Homo sapiens: one gene and its partner. The protein of the gene in region 2 interacts with the protein of the main gene of each other region in a biochemical or structural test. Each region holds a gene or a part of one and is shown on either strand. Other genes may lie near its edges.

Region 1 (3,648 bases), on a different chromosome or scaffold from region 2:
TTAGAAATGTAGTTTCAGCCACATATGGAATTACAAATTTTTCTAGTTAGTCACATTAAAATGATAAAAGTGAAATTAATTTTAATAAAATATTTTAACTCAATATATCTGAAATATTATCCTTTCAGCCTGTAATGAATATTTTAAAAGTATTAATGAGATATTTCACATTCTGGGTTTTTGGTGGTTTTTTTTTTTTTTTTTTTTACACTGAGTCTTTGAAATTGTGTGTATATTTTTCACTTTGGCACATCTCAATTCAGATGCTAAATTGTCAATTGTTAAAGTAAAATATAGTCTTACCAAATCAATAAAGTTGTGTTTAATGGAAAAAGTACTTTACCCTTCTTCTATTTATTTTATTTTATTTTTTGAGATGGAATCTTGCTCTGTTGCCCAGGCTGGAGTACAGTGGCGCGATTTTGGCGCACTACAACTTCCGCCTCCTAGGCCCAAGTCCCAAGTAGCTGGGATTACAGGTCCCCACCACCACGCCCAGCTAATTTTTGTATTCTTAGCAGACACGGGGTTTTACCATGTTGGCCAGGATGGTCTCGAACTCCTGACCTCAAGTGATCTGCCCACCTCAGCCTCCCAAAGTGCTGGGATTACAGGCGTGAACCACCGTGCCTGGCCTCTATTTTTAATTTAAATTTGAATTAGTAAAAATGAAATTAAAAATTCAGTTCTTTGTCACACTAGCCACAATTTCCAATGTTCAGTAGCCACATGTGGTTGGTGGCTACCATATTGGACAGTGCAAGTCTAGCTGGTGCTTAAAATAAGCTGAGATGATTCCTCCTCAAGTCATCTATTCTCCCACAGGTTCAAAAACCTATTTATTTATTTTAAGAAAGATCATGCAAAGCCATTCTAGCCTTTCTCCTGCCCTGGCTAGCAGGCTCCCTTGTTCAGTCTCAGAGCCAAATTCATCTTCTAAATCTCACTCTTCTCTTCTTCACTCAGTTCTTCTTGAGGTCAAAACACTTTTCTGCTTACTGGCAGAGCAGTGCTTCTTGGAGAAGCCCTTCGTGGTGGGGAGAGGGGAGGAGGATGGGGTAAGAGAGACTTGGAGGGGTTCTTACTCCTCCTGCTCTGCCCCACACCCAGCAGGCTCTGTATCTCCTCCTTGGCTCCTGGGAATCAGCCAAGTGCTGAGGCTGTGCTGTTTCTCTTTCTCTTCTAGGATATCAAAGTCGTCTTGTGCAGGTATGATGGGCCACCCCAAATGTATTTTGCCTACTGATTCATCCACACACAATTCTCAGCGTATATCCAAATGCAGTCAACATTCCTCTCTCAGAAATACCCACCCACCTCTAACTCTGCATTCATACATTTAGGCTGCAGCCGGGGAATGCCTATGCCAACCATATTAGCACGTGGTTGGTTGTTAAAGAAACCAGCTGTTTTCTCAGCCTTCCTCCTTCTTCAGCACAGATTCTACTATTTCCTGAATGCCCCCTTGCTCAACTGAATAGCTCCTGGGTCCCCTACTCTGTCTCCCTGACCCTGTTTTTTTCCCTCCTCTCTGTCTCCATCTCCCATCTTCATTTCCATATCTCCCTATGCCCTACCTCACTCCCGCCCCATATCCCTAGCCCTGACTTTCTGACTCCCAGCTCACTATCCCTTAACCGCCAGGTCTTCTTTTTTTTTTTTTTTTTTTTTTTTTGAGATGGAGCTTTGCTCTTGTTGCTCAGGCTGGAGTGCAGTGGTGCAATCTCAGCTCACTGCAACCTTTGTCTCCCAGGTTCAAGTGATTCTCCTGCCTCAGCCTCCCAAGTAGCTGAGACTACAGGCGCTTGCCACCAAGCCTGGCTAATTTTCATATTTTTAGTAGAGACCAGGTTTTACCATGTTGGCCAGGCTAGTCTTGAACTCCTGACCTCAGGTGATCCACCCGCCTCAGCCTCCCAAAGTGCTGGGATTACAGGTGTGAGCCACTGCTCTCAGTTCTACCCCCAGGTCTTCATCCCCTCATTTCTCAACCGCGTATCTCAGATCCTCCTTCTCCCACACCTCATCCCCTGATCTCACCAACCAGCTCAACCACATCTTCCTAGAAGTGAAGAGTTTCAGTTTCTCAACCCAACCCCTGTTCCTCTGGAACTGGAGAAAAAACTCAGTGAAGCAAAATCAAGACATGACTCCATCACAGGGAGCCTAAAAAAATTCAAAGGTAAGGAAGAGGCTGTATTTTCTCTATTCACCTACTTCCAGGAGATTCTCTCCCTGCTCACTCCACTGAAATGGAACTGTGACTCATACATGCCAACAATCCCTGGGCCCTTCTAGTGCCAGGCTTCTGGCTGAGTACTTTCCACGCATCAGTATGCCTCCTCCCAGGCATTTCTTATATTCTGTCTTTGTGATATGTTATTTATCTGCCTCCCTGACTCCTGCGAGAGCCATAGAGGGCCTGGACCTATTCCCCATGTGGACACCTGGCCTAGAGCAGTGGCTGTTGGGAAGTTGGTGATGAGTTGTCTGGTGGACCAGAGATGGCCTCAGGCAGGGACTGTCATCTCTGACTTCTCCTTCTCTGGTGCACACTGGTGTCTCCTCCTGCCTACAGAAGAAGAGAAAATAAATTCAAAATCAGTGACATTCTGGGGAGAAACCTCTTCCAGCCTTACAGGGAAACAGAAATCAGCAGAACAGTAGTGGATGACTTGGGTTTTAGATGTTCGCCAGATATTTTTCATAAACCTTTCTGTGTTTGCAACTAGGAAGAAGGGTTAGTATTTGTAAGGACTCCCCTTAATGTGAAGACTGTGTTGGTCTAAGGTGGGCATAAAGACAGCTAGATGGAATCTTCTGAAATTATCACCTGGAGTTCCACACCCACCTCCCCCACCCCAACCCCCAGCCCCCCATACACAAACACTTCCCCTTGGGACTACGGAAAAGGAGGACCAGGGCAATGCCCCAAGATCTCCACCCATTCAGCCGGGAATCTCCACTCGGCAGACATAAACAGGAAAGCATGTTTTGTTTTATTCTTAATTTTGTTGTCTGAGCTTTTCTTTTGTCCACTAACTGCTCTGCTTTGTCTAGCTCCTCCCACCCCACTGGGCATGATCTCAGCCGATCTAGCAACTTTATTTATTTGTTTATTTATTTATTTATTTTTGATGGAGTTTTGCTCTTATTGCCCAGGATAGAGTGCAGTGGCGCAATCTCGGCTCACTGCAACCTCCGCCTTCTGGTTTCAAGCGATTCTCCTGCCTCAGCTTCCCAAGTCGCTGGTGTTACAGGCGCACACCACCATGCCCAGCTAGTTTTTTGTATTTTTAGTAGAGACGGGGTTTCACCAGGTTGGTCAAGCTGGTCTCGAACTGCTGACTTGTGATCCACCCGCCTCAGCCTCCCAAAGTGCTGGGATTACAGGCGTGAGCCACCACGTCCAGCCCGATCCAGCACCTTTCTAGGCTCTTCAGGTCAAGAATAGTTTGGTTCTAGTTTGGAATTTCAATAAAGGAGCCCAGCCCTTTCCACTTCATCAGGTTTGGAGTTGGGGAGACTGGTGTGCTCTACTCTGTATCCCCCTTTTCTTTCCCTCTTTCACATACACAAACTCACACACACACAGTCCCCCAACTCCCACCTGGCCCTATTTCCTTCTTTTTTTTTTCTCTTATTTTT
Region 2 (3,648 bases):
TATATTGAATTTACTTTTATGAAAGTACATTTTTATTACATTATACTGTAAAATGCCTAGAAGTTATCCAATTACGATGGCAATATCATATATAAACAATAATCACAAAACCCTCAGGGAGCTTAACCCTATTAAAGGCAATCAGACTTTAAAGAAAAGAAAGGCTACAAGAGCCTGGTCAGAGCGCTATGGCCAGCTCTTCTCCATTCCCTTGCCGCCCGAACTACCACTGCACCCTTGTAGGCAGACGTGGCAGTTTTGGTCTGTTTAACTGACAGAGAAATCCACCAATCTTTCCTTATAGTGTCTATATTTGATGCTATACATACGAAAGTCTTCTCCACCCAGAGACTGGACAACTATTAATTTAAGGTTTTATATTTAATGCTTTAAGACTTCCAGAATTTATTTTGATATGTTATTTAAAGTACAGAGCTTGGCCGGGCACGGTGGCTCATGCCTGTAATCCCAGCACTTTGGGAAGTCCAGGCGGGTGGATCACGAAGTCAGGAGTTCGAGGCCAGCCTGGCCAACATGGCGAAACCCCACCTCTACTAAAAATTAGCCAGGCGTGGGGACAGGCACCTGTAATGCCAGCTTCTTGGGAGGCTGAGGCAGGAGAATCGCTTGAACCCAGGAGGTGGAGGTTGCGGTGAGCTGAGATCGTGCCACTGCACTCCAGCCTGGGCAACACTCCAGCATGGGCAACACTCCAGCCTGGGCAACAAGAGCAAGACTCTGTCTCAAAAAATAAAAAAATAGAGCTTAACCTGATAAAGTAATTTTTAAAGAAATACCCAATACATGGTTACTTTATTGACCTCTATATTACAGTGCACTTTCCTAAGTGCATTATGTTTCACAATAAAAAAAAGTTAAAAAAAAAAAAAAAAAAGGAAAAGGTTTGAAAAACAAACTGGAAATAATCTGGTGCCTCATGCCTTTACAAAAAAATTATCTGATCAGATCTCATAGTACTAAATTATTTTAATAACCATTTAACATAAACATCCAGTTAGAAATGCAATATTCATACTGAGGTGCAGCTATCTGTGCTAGGACAGAGGTTGGCTCAGATTGACAGATTGACTGATTGATTGATTGATTTTGAGGTGCAGTCTCACTCTGTAGCCCAGGCTGGAGTGCAGTGGCGCGATCTCGGCTCACTGCAACTTCTGCCTCCTGGGTTCAAGGGATTATCCTGCCTTAGCCTCCCGAGTAGCTGGGATTACAGGCGCCTGCCACCACACCCAGCTAATTTTTCTATTTTTAGTAGAGACGGGCTTTCACCATGGTGGCCAGGCTGGTCTGAAACTTCTGACCTCAGGTGATCCACCCGCCTCAGCCTCCCAAAGTGCTGGGATTACAGGCGTGAGCCACTGCCCCCAGCCAGAATAGAATTTTTTAAAAAGACAACAAAGTGAGATACAAGGTCAGTCTCTGTGTGCTTTTTCTTTTTTGGTAAATTCATCAAGGAACAGTTTTAGAATTGCAGGTAACCACTATTCAAACTTGTCAAGAGACAAAGAAAGGTGAATAAAACATAAAACCAAAAAAGCAAAACCTGGCTGGGCTAGGTGGCTCACGGCTGTAATCCCAGCACTTTGGGAAGCCAAGGCGGGCAGATCACGAGATCAGGAGATCCAGACCATCCTGGCTAACATGATGAAACCCCGTCTCTACTAAAAATACAAAAAATTAGCCGGGCGTGGTGGCAGGCGCCTGTAGTCCCAGCTACTTGGGAGGCTGAGACAGGAGAATGGCGTGAACCCAGGAGGCAGAGCTTGCAGTGAGCCGAGATCACGCCACTGCACTCCAGCCTGGGCGACAGAGCGAGACTCTGTCTCAAAGGAAAAAAAAAAAAAAAAAAAAAAGCAAAACCCAATCATATTCACATGGTTTTGAAATATTCTCAAAGACAGACCAAAACATGCCCTCTCGCCAGGCCTAACTCAATTCCAGCTGAGCTCTGCCATCGCAGAGTGGGCTTTTGTCCAGCCCAGGACAAAGGTCTGAGGTCACTGAGAATGATCTAGAACACCAGTGAACAGAGGAAAAATGGCCATTGGCAAATGACCATAGCACCCAGCATCTTAAGACAGAATGCTACGAGATTTTTACTCCAAGCCCCCACCCAAGATTCCACCACATGGTTCTACTTTCGTCTGTTTAAATTGGTAAGATCTCTACAGAGGAATCTGAGACCAAAAAAGAAGAATGAAGTGAAATCATCTGCATATGGATATGAGCACAGTAAATAATTATAATATATAACAGAACATTTTTTATTCAGAGTCTGTAGCTTTGAACTTACTAGAGTTTCAACATATCTTAACATGTCAAAGGAGCTCAGGTCTGAGCGCAGCTGCTTTGCTTTCTCTTTGCCCAAATCTGAAGCCAAAACAAGAAAGTGGGCATCCAGGACTGCTTCTCTTGCTCGGGACACTATTCAAAAAAGAAAGAAAATATTCACATTACAAAATACACATTATCCATAGACTTTTTCCCTACATTTCCAACTACTTACCAGGATTTCCCACTGGACTAAAAAAAAAAAAAAATCTCAATAGGCAACTGACACATCTCCTTCTAAAACGTGCTCCTGGCCAGGTGCGGTGGCTCAAGCCTGTAATCCCAGCACTTTGGGAGGCCAAGGCGGGCGGATCACGAGGTCAGGAGATCGAGACCATCCTGGCTAACACGGTGAAACCCCAGCTCTACTAAAAATACAAAAAATTAGCAGGGCGTGGTGGCGGGCGCCTGTAGTCCCAGCTACTTGGGAGGCTGAGGCAGAATGGCGTGAACCCGGGAGGCAGAGCTTGCAGTAAGCCAAGATCGCGCCACTGCACTCCAGCCTGGGTGTCAGAGCAAGAGGCTGTCTCAAAACAAAAACAAAAACAAAAAAAAACTTTCTCCTGTGCCCAACTCACCAAAATCTCTAATGAAAGCTGACCAGTCTTCCTAAAAGCCAGCTTTCTGTCTAGTTCTCCTACTGTTAGCTGAATCACAATCTCTTAAATAACTCCAGTTGAGCAAAACCCGTCATGTCTAATACTCACTTTTCCCTCCATCCTAATCACGATGATCATGTGTGCTGACGTAAGGAAAATCAAATTCCCACTACATGTAGGGCCCTGTGCTTGGCATGGTGGTTTGTGAACAGCAATAGGTAAGCTGCTAAGCAATAGGTAAGTTGCTAAAGTTGCTAACCAAAATCATGGCATGTGCTAGGCTGGCACTAGGAGGCTCATGCCTCTGTATGGCTTCACAGGCAACCCCAGCAAAGCCACCCAAATGAACAGTCTACAGGTAGCAGGTAGTGACCCGAGGACGGATACTCAAAAAAGGCTTGACAGAGGACATGGGATTTAAGAAAAGCTATGGAAAAAAAAGATTTAAATTAATGCAGAAACAGGCTGGGCACAGCAGCTCATGCCTGTAATCCCTACACTTTGGGAAGCCGAGGCAGGCGGATCACTTTGAGCTCCAAAGTTTGAGACCAGCCTGGGCAACGTGGTGAAACCCCATCTCTACTAAAGAATCAAAAATTAGCTGGGCATGGTGGTGCACACCTGTAATCCCAGCTACTCGGGTGGCTGAAGCTGGAGAATAGCTTTAACCTGGGGGGGGCAGAGGTTGCAGTGAGCC

The links. The genes of interacting proteins can lie anywhere in the genome.
Region 1: the proteins of NSMCE4A (region 2) and TRIM31 form a complex in vitro, tested with the Homo sapiens proteins (one study listed by BioGRID).

Annotation. Positions count from the first base shown.
Region 1 is NC_000006.12:30,106,587-30,110,234, reverse strand, and holds part of TRIM31 (E3 ubiquitin-protein ligase TRIM31), read left to right. Parts: intron 1-1,186; coding exon 1,187-1,209; intron 1,210-2,047; coding exon of another isoform or gene 2,048-2,066; coding exon 2,067-2,182; intron 2,183-2,447; exon of another isoform or gene 2,448-2,572; intron 2,573-3,648.
Region 2 is NC_000010.11:121,968,625-121,972,272, forward strand, and holds part of NSMCE4A (non-structural maintenance of chromosomes element 4 homolog A), read right to left. Parts: intron 2,446-3,648; coding exon 2,315-2,445; intron 1-2,314. UniProt on the Homo sapiens protein: Component of the SMC5-SMC6 complex, a complex involved in DNA double-strand breaks by homologous recombination. The complex may promote sister chromatid homologous recombination by recruiting the SMC1-SMC3 cohesin complex to double-strand breaks.